2 separate regions of the Homo sapiens genome follow, and region 1 is linked to region 2. Evidence: fine-mapped expression QTL. A gene starts in region 2. The other region holds a variant in brackets. All regions are shown on one strand. Distances are between the middles of the regions.

Region 1 (5,382 bases), 270 kb after region 2:
TCCCTGAATCTCTATAACTGGATGAAATAAATTTAATATTGAGAAGTGTAAAGAAAATTCTTAATTTATTATCTATATTAAATGTGAATGTTTAAAGTATGAAAATTGCTCTGACTTTTAAGAAGTCAGGTGGTGAAACAAAAGCACATGTATTCACCCAGAGAGAGAGGAAGCAAATAGTTCAATCAGAGGGCAACAAGAGTACATATGATTTCTCCTTTATAATATATTCAGAAACATTGTTTATTCAATTAATTATTTTTTTAGAGAGAGGGTCTCACTGAATGATCATGGCTCATTGCAGCCTCGAACATCTAGGCTCAAGTGATCCTCTCACCTCAGCCTCCTGAGTAGCTGGCACTGCAGAAAAATATTGCTTTTTAAACAGAAGAAGAGTCTAAAGGCAGAATCGAATACTGAGGATCATTTACTGCTCGGTTAATAGTGAACAGGGAAAGGATTACTGTTGTTGAGAATACTATTTACATAGAGGCTGAAGATCCAATCCAGTCAAATAAAAAGAGACTAGTATATATAAAAAGATGGCCAGGTGCAGTGGCTCACGCCTGTAATCCCAGCACTTTAGGAGGCCGAGGTGGGCGGACCACAAGGTCAGGAGTTTGAGACCAGCCTGGCCAACATGGCGAAACCTCATCTCTACTAAAAATACAAAAATTAGCTGGGCGTAGTGGCAGGCGCCTGTAATCCCAGCTACTCGGGAGGCTGAGGCAGGAGAATCGCTTGAACCCAGGAGGTGGAGGTTGCAGTGAGCCGAGATAGAGTCATTGCACTCCAGCCTGGGCCACAAGAGCAAGACTCCATCTCAAAAAAATAAGAAAAAAAAAAAAAAAGATGACCTTTAAAAACATAATGGACTTTTATCTCTAACCAATTAAGGTAAACTTATTTGCCTGGCTTTCAAGGTTGTGGCCTAAATTTGTACAAGTCTTCCCATATACCTACCCTGGTCTTCAGTTAAATCAATTGCCATTGCTTCACACATTCAATCTTATGCTACTAAGTCTTCGTTTTTCCTTTCAATCTAAGCACTACAATCTGTGCTGTCAAAATTCTATTCATTTTTCAAGCTCCGTTTAAAAAATGTCACCTCTATTTTATGAAGATATTCTTATTTTTTGATTCCTTTAATTTGCTAAAAGCTAAAATGTTTATCCTCCTCCTTTTCACTTCTGTTCCATTAAGATGAGGATAGGAGTGGTAAAGTGAATGAAGAAGATTCTTAGGAAAAGATCTGAAGTTAGGTGATTTTTCTTTAAGATTTATGAACATTCAAGTTTTCATGTGATTTTCTTTTCAAGTTACTTTATTATTGTACAATTTGTTGAGTATTTATTTTGAGCCAAACACTGTGTTAGAACCTGGAATTGAAAAACTAGATTAAAACTAAGTACCTACCCTTAGAAATTCCATAACTAATGGGCAAGGATTTGAATATTGCTAGACAACAAAACAGAGAAAAGGGCCAAAGAGAAGCAAGCCATTAGCACATCACATAAAATTTTCATAAGTTTCTTCATGTCTAATTTACTCAAGATTCAGATTGTTGAGTTCAGTAAAGATTATTTTGTCATATTATTCATCACTGAAGATACACATTAGTCAGCTAGAAATAAAAACAAACACACACCAGAAACAAACAAAAAAAATATAAATCTTATTTATTGCCCTGGGCATGTTTGAGTTTTCTTCTCAGTTTCATGTTTGGCAGATTTTCACATTTCATAGCTCAGTTAGCCCCTGTGAGTCAGATGAAACGTTTCAAAAAACTATTCTTGACTACTTATTTGCATATGTATATATGTTATAAGCTTGAAATTTTAAGATTAAGTTTTTGACCACAATGTTAAAGTCTCATGATAGAGTATGAATATTTTTAGCAACTTTCTCTATAATTCAATCTCTAAAAGTATTTTCTTATGCTGAGCCCAAAAAAATGTTTAAACGTGTAAAAAAGTAGACAAATATAAACTTAGAAAGAACAAAAGATAATAGAGCCTCATAAATTATTTTGAAAGTTACATACAAGGAAATATTTGCTCCTTTTCTCATGAAGATAACATATAAAAACTTAAGTTGGAATTATTATGGGAATTATGAAGCCTCATCATTGTGGCCTTGAAATAATGACTTCATTTTCTGAATAAAGACTGACCAACTGTGTGACCTCGAATTAGCAATTAATCTCTCTGTGCTATCAATTATTCATC[G/A]TTAATATTGAGCTGAATATTCCTTCCTATCAAACATTTTTAATGGTGTATTATGCCCTTTAAAAGGAAAGTATTTTGGAAAATTCAACAAATATTGACATATTTTTCAACTATCAGTAATTAGGTGAAAACAAAGATAAACTAAAACTATAATTGTTGCAAAGGAAAATATGCATCTGTGAAAAAATCATTTTCCCCTTCGATAACTTACTCCAGAAATCTCAGAATATAAACAATTAAAATATAAAATGGATTTTCTTATGGTAAGAATACTGATAAAATGTTTATCAGCCGTTTTGCGTGTCCATGCTCTACAAGTGGCCTTAGCACAGTGGCTGACACAGAGAGAACTCTGGACTCTCATATACCTGAATTTCAGAAGCCTTGTATTATGGTCTTCTCTAAGAGTTTGAGAATATAATAGACACTCATGAAGATTCTTTCCTAAAAGAGGAAAGCATTTAATTAATTGATTCATTGGTTGGTTATAAATGCCCTGCAGTCAAATGACCAGGAAACAGGAGGCAGAGACTTTGGAACTGTTCTCCAAGCCAATTCTGTTCAAAGACAATCTGTATTGATAACTCTGCAGGCATAATCCTTTGAGAATCCGGGTGGCAGGCCCTGTGAAAAGCATAGTTGCTCAGCATCCCAAGTCATGAAAAAAATTTGTTTAACTCTATGAATTTCTTCAGAGTTCCTGGGTCAGAAAAAGTTACTGCAGTAGATTTGCTTATTGTACTAACCAGAAACAGTCTTAGCAGGAAAACAAGACCTGGAAGGAAGGTTTTAAAAAAAGGTTGCTAGAGGACATAGATAGATAAATAGTAGAGAGATGTTACTAATCTCCATACTCTAATTTAAAAATATAACAAGGTAGGGATAGTATTTACATAATATGGCTTTTTAATTGAATGATAACATATGACAATGGTGGTAAATCTTATGATAGGAATTACATGATAGCTATAAATATCACCTAAAAGGATTGTACTGAAATGGCAATTTTAATCAGTACAATCTAGCTAGTCAATTTAAAGACTTACCAAAATACTCACATTTTAAAAACCATTAGAAAGTCCAATTTTATAAAACTGTCTTATTGCTTGATTCTTGGAATTCATGTAAAGATGAGACAATTAATGGATAGCTAATTCAAATAAACATATATGCCTCTCTTATCTCTTCATTAATATGCAGTTTGGTCAAAAAATGTAGGTTTTTTCAATTCTATCTACCAAACATAAAGTTATACATTGAATGCAAGGGTTTTCCTAATATAATATGAAAAATAAATTTAAACATATAAATAATATATAATAATAAGCTGACTTAGTGCTCATATTTCTGGCAACCTCAAATTTTCAAAATACATCTGTATAGCTACAGACCAGTAAGCAAGATTCTGATGGGCAAACAGGTTGAAGAACATGGCAAGATTCATAGAAGAAAAAAGACTAACCTCATTTTCTGGACTACAGTCTAATGAATAGGACTGTCTTATTTTATAAATAATCTGGTGTATGTGCTGTTTAACAAGTCTTCCTCAGATACAATAGCAGCATGTTGGAAACTAAAGGTAGAATGACAAAATTTGAAGAGGAGAGGTCATTCAGAGAGTTAATAGAAACCTATTGTGAAAAGTAATATCTGATATCAACACATAGTAGAGTTATAAATTATGAGAAAATACAGTTATTTAAGAAAACTGCAGAAAAACACAAATTATTACAATGGATCCCCTGTCCTCATGTCTTTAACAGGAAACTCCCCAGTGTGGTGTTTCATATATTCTAGAAAAGACAGAGTTTAAATGAACTTCTCTTTTGTGTCGCCAACTCAATTTGGTCCTGTTTTGTCCATTCCCATTGTCAATAACTTCATTCAGTCCACTTTCATCTCTCTCCTTATTATAATGACTTTCAAATGCTTTTTCTGTAGCTTTTTCCTAATTTTGCCTCGTCTAAACTAGTTTCTGACTTACAACCTAGGTTACTTTTATATAAATAAGTTTGATGATCTCACCAACCTATTTAAAATTCATTCAAGAGTACTCAGTAAACCCAATATAATGTTATTTCTCTGAGAGTATTCTTTACTATACACTTCACAAACTTCTACCACTACTGTCCATCCTAACTCTTTTTCAGTTCTGCAAAAATATGTCATCTTATAGGCCTCCCATGCTTCACATATGCTGGACTCCGCTCCAGCAACACTCCCTGTCTTTGTGTAGCTAACTCTTAGTTTTACATTTATTCCAGATATAAAGACAGTGACCTCCATTCCTGGGCGTTTGTTTCTGTTATGTGCTTCCATAGCAGCTATCAAGGCAGTCATCCCATTGTATTTATTTGTTTAATTAACTATCATTTTCTTCACTAAAATATGAGTTTTTCAAAACTAGGGACTAAGAAAGCAGTGTCTGAATCCTTTTCAGTACTCCACTGTGTTACATTTTCAGCATGTTAAGTGGCATAAAAATATACAATTGCAATCATTGAATGGATACAGAAATTAATAAATGTAGTATATAAAAATCTAAGTAGTCATTAAATATAATTTTAATCAATGAATATTTAATATATTTTTCAGCACCCAATGAATATTTATATAAATGGTATGTATTATTTCAAAAAGGAAAGCTCAACAAATTCTGGTAAGAAAATATTACATGAGCTACATTTCATGACAAAAATACCATAAAACTATGAACAAAAATTAACCAGAAATAATCTAACATTTAGAAAGTTTTACATATGATTTTTTTAAATCTCCTGAGCTAAAGAGGTAATGATAACATAGAAAAAGATGTGTGTAGTTGATGTTAGAGGTCTGGAAGCTGAAAGGCTGAATTTGTACTCATCTTTTCATTATTAGATTTTTTCTTTTCTGAGGGACAGAACCTAAATAGTTTGTTGAGGTCATTAAAGCTTTGATTTTAAAAGGGAGACAATGGACCAACCTGCTCTTCATATCTATAAGACCCAGGGCAAGAGCACAGATGGAAGTTGCTGGCCTCCCACCATTACCTTCCCACTCTCCAGCGTCAACATCACTCACAGTCCCCACCTCCGTAAGCAGGTTCAGTGCTGCTGTGGCAGGGGATATCTGGACTCAAACATCCAGAATGTGGTTAAAAAAGGATGCAGGA
Region 2 (5,382 bases):
AACAGGAGTCTGTGTGTCCCCTTCACCCGGAAACTCATCTTCCGGGCTTCAAAAGGCTTAAACACCCCATCTGCTTCAACCCAGGAGCTTACTCAGATACCATATATATTTTAAATGATGTTTCTGATTCATGTTGCCATACTGTAAATTATTATTTTTAAAAGATGCCCCCTTTGAGTGAGTAGGATTTGTGTCTGACTAGATGCTAAGTTTTATTCATCTTTGTGTTCCCATCTCCGCACACATTGCCTGCCCCATAACCATTGCTTAAGAAATAATGAGTTTAATGAAACGATGCATATTACTCTATCCCTGACAGAGAGTGATGTTTTACCTATAATCTAAAATATAGTTGTCTACTGTTTAAAAATCAAAGTTTATCCTTGAGAATTTAGCATCCTAACCATGCATCCCTCTCCCACCCGACCCCTGCCCTCAGCCCCGGATCCCTTTTAACTTAAATAAGAAGCTGTTTTATTCTGGCAGTTTTTGCCAGAAGAAAAGTGAGTCTAACAGAAGTCAATCTAACAGAAATGCATTAATGCAGGCTGGATTTGCCTAGACATCAATAAACTCGAAAGGCTCCCTGTGGGCCACTTGTAGTGTCAATAAACGTTCGTAATTACTTGCTCCTTGGAGCATTTTTATACCCGACCCCGTTCGCTGTGCTGCAAAGAGGAAATTCAAGATCTCGGAAGTTCTTAACTTCTTAAACTCTAGAGGAAGTATGGTAAACACTGGCGGGAACCTTGGGTTTTTAAGCAAAGATGCTGGCTGTTTTCGTTGCTATTTTAAGCTGTCAGGCGACAAGCAACTCAGAATTCCCCTTCTTACTTCCGGCGGGAGGGAAGATTGGAATTGGGCCTCATCATTTCTGAGCGTGAAAAACCGCTGAAGCTACTGTTCAACCTGAAGGAACACGGAATTCAACTGGAGAGAAACCCTGGCGACCAGGGAGCTGGGGACCGGCGCATATAGATGAGGGAAATCCTGGCTTCCAGACACTGTCTCATGCTAGAGGTGCCTCCCGACCTACCAGCCAACAGTAAAGACCGGAACCAAGGCGTGGTACTAGCAGAGTAGCAAGCATCTCTCCCAATGAGGGCAACGACTGGAGGATGGTGGAGAGGTACTCAGAGTGAACAATCGAACACAGAACTCTTGAAAAGTGTCCCTGCCACCCAATACAAGTACGAAAAATGGTGGGACGGAGGAGAGGTGACAATCAGAGGCTATATATATAATTGAGACTTTTAGAGAGGACTTTGCTCTTCCTTCCTCCCCTCCCTTTTCTTTCCTTTCTTTCTTTCCTTCCTTCCTTGGTATCCGAATGTGTGTGGGTGTACTTGCGTTTAAAAGAGAGGTCCATGGTAGCTGCTTTTTTTTCAGAACTCTGTTTCTCCGCAATGAAGTTTAAGTGGGATTGGAGTTTCCTTGACTTCTGCGTGAGGAGTTTCCAAATGGCAATGAAAGGGAGGCGCATAAATATCCATAAAGTTCCTAATGACACCTCTATCATCACTTGTTTCCTGCAGAATCCTGAGCCAGGGTCGTCGTCCACCACCCATGCAGAGTGGGCCCATCGGCTAACAGGTTCATGTGTGTATTTGCACTTTCCAGATTGAGTAATAAAAGTCTTCTTCCTTCCACCGCCGTCCCCACCCCCGCACCCCGTTTCACTCCACCTTGGAGGGCGTGTTTTTGCGTGTGAGGGTGTGTGTTTAGCAAAAGCGATTGAAAGAAGGTACTCTTCTTGCAATCCACCCCTAGCTCTACCTGAAGCATTCCTCTGGCGGGACGCTTTTGTAATCTGTCCCCAGGCGAGGTGCCCTCTCACCTAGATGCGGATAGACTATCTTGGAGCTCCCAGGTCCAGAGAGCTGATGCTTTGATGTCCCAGGAGAGTGTGTGTGATTCTGCGTGTACGTGTGTGTGCATATGTATGTATGTGTGTATGTATGTATATGTGTATGTGCGCGAGCTCGCAGGCGCGTAGCACTGTGAGCTTCCTCTCCCGGCACAGAGCAGGCAGAGCCGGGGACGTTACTCTCCAAGCAGCCTCCGCCCCCTCAGCCTGGTGATTGGCTTTGCGCAGCGTTTATCTCCTAGCAAGAGGGAAGGGCCAGTGACGCCCCCGAACCCAGCTGCAGAAGCTGCCGCCACCTCCAATGCACAAGGTGTCTCATCTGAAAAGAAACCTGAGCCCCAGGGAGGCGGCGCGGAGCGACCCTGGCAGAGCTGGCGCAAACAGGGCGAGAGGTCGCTGGGCAGCGTTCGAGGACCAGAGGGAGCTCGGCCACAGAAGACCCCAGTGATCTGATCCCGGGATCCCGGCTCCAAGCTCTCCTCGCATTTTACAGATTTCACCCCCGCGACTATCTCCCCAAAACGGAGCCTTTATATCAAGAGAAGGTGCGGGAGCTGGGGCAACCAGGACTTTCTCGGGCACCCAAGATGCGCTCCATTAGGAAGAGGTGGACGATCTGCACAATAAGTCTGCTCCTGATCTTTTATAAGACAAAAGAAATAGCAAGAACTGAGGAGCACCAGGAGACGCAACTCATCGGGTAAATGCAAAGCTTCATTTCAGGATATGACAAAAAGTCAAGCCATAAATGAAATGTGAATATAGAGGGTAGAGTGATGGTTAGGATAGCATGTGTGTTTGTTTGAGCTTGCGCGTGGTTAGTGTCATGAATTAAATAACAAAGGCTGTTGTTGAGATGTGCGTGCTTCTCTAAGCTGTTCCCAGTATGAGTTCAACTTGCTCTGTGTGGTTGTGGTGACAGTTGTGTTGGCCCTGGGTGCTCTCTCGCCAAAGGAGAAGTCACTGCAGAAGTGTCAACAAAGAACGTGTGTCCTTGTCCTTTTAATCTGTGGGCAGAACTCAAGAGAAATGTCTTTATTCACCAAACGGTTGCCTGTTTTCAATGTCCTATCACCTAAGGAGATACTGGAGATAGATGGTTTCTCGAAGGGCTGAAGTTAAAGCTTAGAAAGCAGGAAATAGGTATACTCTGTTTCTCTACTTTTTTTTTTTCTATTTGACGTTGGATAGATTAATGTGTTATAATTTGAATTAGAAACTCCAGTACCACTAAGGATACTTCCTTATTTGTTCTTCTACGGCTAAAACGCATGGGCGTCATGGTTACAGTTTTAGAAAGAAACTGGGTACTGTAGCTTCACACAGACTATATTTCTGCTATTTTTTTTAGTTTGTCTAGATGAGTTCAGACTCTCCCCCGCCCCACTAAGTTCTCTAAATATCACACTTCCTTCCACCCGCTGGCCTCTGTGTCTTTGAAGTTTACCCAGGAGGTGGTGCAACTTTGTGTTGCTGACATAGCTTGGAAGGCTTTTTCTGAGGATGTGAACCTGATTGTCAACTCTATTCAAAGTCCTGTTTCGGAAATCCTCCCTGTTCCGGTTTGGAGGCGTCCTCTATCAGAAACTACACACCAGCAGAGATGCCTGCCCAGTTTATATTTTTCTCTGACATTGATTAAAACAAAGAAAACAGCCCTTGCGTGTGTGTGTATGTGTGTGTGAGAGAGAGAGAGATGGGACTGCTAACACACACACATGCTCTTAAACTTCCTGCACTCCATTTCTTAATATTCCTGCTCCCTAGGTAATAAGCATTTATTTAAGCGAGCAAGATGCAGGTTGATCCTTACAGAAGGACTTGCTATTCTGTAGAAAACCAGGAAAACAGTAGCACAGTCAAAGCGGACTGGAAGAGAATGAAAAAGCTAGCAAGGAATGGGCTGGAATGGTCGTCATGCATCAACGAATCTATACATGGTCTATTCTGAGGGGGTAAAAAAGACCGGTATGAGGTCGTTTACACAAGACTGGGTGGCTTGAAAATCCAATCTAGCTCAGTTGTTAGAAAAGCAGGACTTTGGGCAGGGGCGTGGGCATCCCTTGCAGACCTGTGCTTGCCAGGCAGACAAAGGGGTCTTTAGAAAGGTGATGAATGGGCGCATGGGGCTCCGATGAGAGGCAGAGGCTAGAGCTTGAGGGTCGAGGCTCTTTGTTCCCTCCCGGGCCGTGGGCTAGGAGGATAAGCCTGATCCCAGACAAAGCGGCCAAGGCTCACTAGGACTCCGAGGGTTCGGGCCCTTGGCTGGGACCCTGGAGAGCAGGAGTGGGCGGAGCGAGTGAGAAGAGGGTCGCCAGATACTGCCGAGGTGTCCATCTCCGAGCCTCCCTAAACCGTGGCCAGGAAAAGGAGCGCACCTCGAGTCCCTGCGGGGAAGCGGAGCCGGGACACTCCGCATTGCACGGGTGTCATTTCTCCTGTGGCCCTTTCCTGGACGTTGCCGGCTGGTGGGCGCAGCCCTAGGCGTTAAGGAAGAGGAGGCGGGCACTGGCGCGGCGGTTGAGCTAGTCGGGCTGGGCTTTTGCCCGCATCCTTTTCAAGCTGAAGCAGTTTCCTCCCAGCTTGACTGAGAAGGCGTTGGGGCAGGCGCTTGAGTAAACCAAACAGGAAGAGAGGCGCGCACCGGGGTTATCCCCTGCTGCCAGAGCGCCGGCGGCGAGGGGGAAAGAATGAGTGAGAAGATAGGGGGAAACCTTTATTGCAGGACTCAGGCTCTTTTGGTCCCTCCCCTCCTTCCACCCCCACCCCACCCCCACCCCCCACCCAAAGTCACTTTCAAAGCTCAGTCGGCAACTGGCTCCTCCTTCTTAATCAAAACCCGCAATTACAGTGGGGCAAGGCAGAGGGCTGGCCGCGAACGTCGCGCTTACACCCGTGCCCTGTAGCGTCCTGACTGCCTTGGTCTCCTGAGAGACCAAGACTGTGCAAGGAGTTGGAGCTGCCAGGAACAATGCGAGGGCAGCTAGGCTCCCTGAGCACTTTCCTTTTTCTCCAGGATGAAAGGTTCGTGGAAAAGCTTGTGACCCGAGCTCATTATTTCGTTTCAACTCCCAAACAGCGCTTCTGGTGGAGGAGTTGACTCATAAAACCATCAAATCATCTCATTGACTGTCTTTCTACCCAAGCCACGTGGAGAGGCCAGTTTTGAGTTTTGAGTAAACTGGAATGGAGGTTCGGCTCCAGATCCCGGTCCAGTATTCAAGTGAGGTAACCAAGGCAGTCTCTGGCCTTTGGGGGGCACTGCGAGCCTTGTGGCTTGGCAGCAGTTTCAAAGAAGGGCCTTCCATAGTCCTTGAATCTTGCATCACTACCCCAGATTCATATTTAGCTTTTCTGCTACCAATTTTGCAATACAAGGCAGTTCCTTTATCCCTTCGACCCTTCCCCCCCGCAAATGGGGGTCCCATCTATAGTTACTCTTACAGTATGCCACAATACTGAGCAGTCATACCACGCAGATGGAAAAATAGAAAACCAGCACAACCTTCTCACCA

What was found. PIP is the estimated chance that this variant, and not a neighbour inherited with it, causes the effect.
Region 1: its variant is the best candidate, but not a certain one, in a credible set for the expression of ST8SIA4 in blood mononuclear cells (TOPMed, PIP 0.70).

Annotation. Positions count from the first base shown.
Region 1 is chr5:100,631,482-100,636,863 of GRCh38, reverse strand. No RefSeq gene overlaps it. Among named protein-coding and RNA genes, the nearest start is that of FAM174A, 99 kb to the right of the region's middle. The variant G/A (reference allele first, on the strand shown) is at 2,229.
Region 2 is chr5:100,900,028-100,905,409 of GRCh38, reverse strand. ST8SIA4 (ST8 alpha-N-acetyl-neuraminide alpha-2,8-sialyltransferase 4) reads left to right here and starts at 2,128. Exons shown (of 5, transcript NM_005668.6): 1 at 2,128-2,567. The coding sequence starts at 2,455. LOC107986437 (a long non-coding RNA gene) reads right to left here and starts at 2,002. Exons shown (of 2, transcript XR_001742825.3): 1 at 1-2,002. RefSeq lists enhancers at 726-965, 1,746-1,985, 2,471-3,040, 4,178-4,679, 4,786-5,005.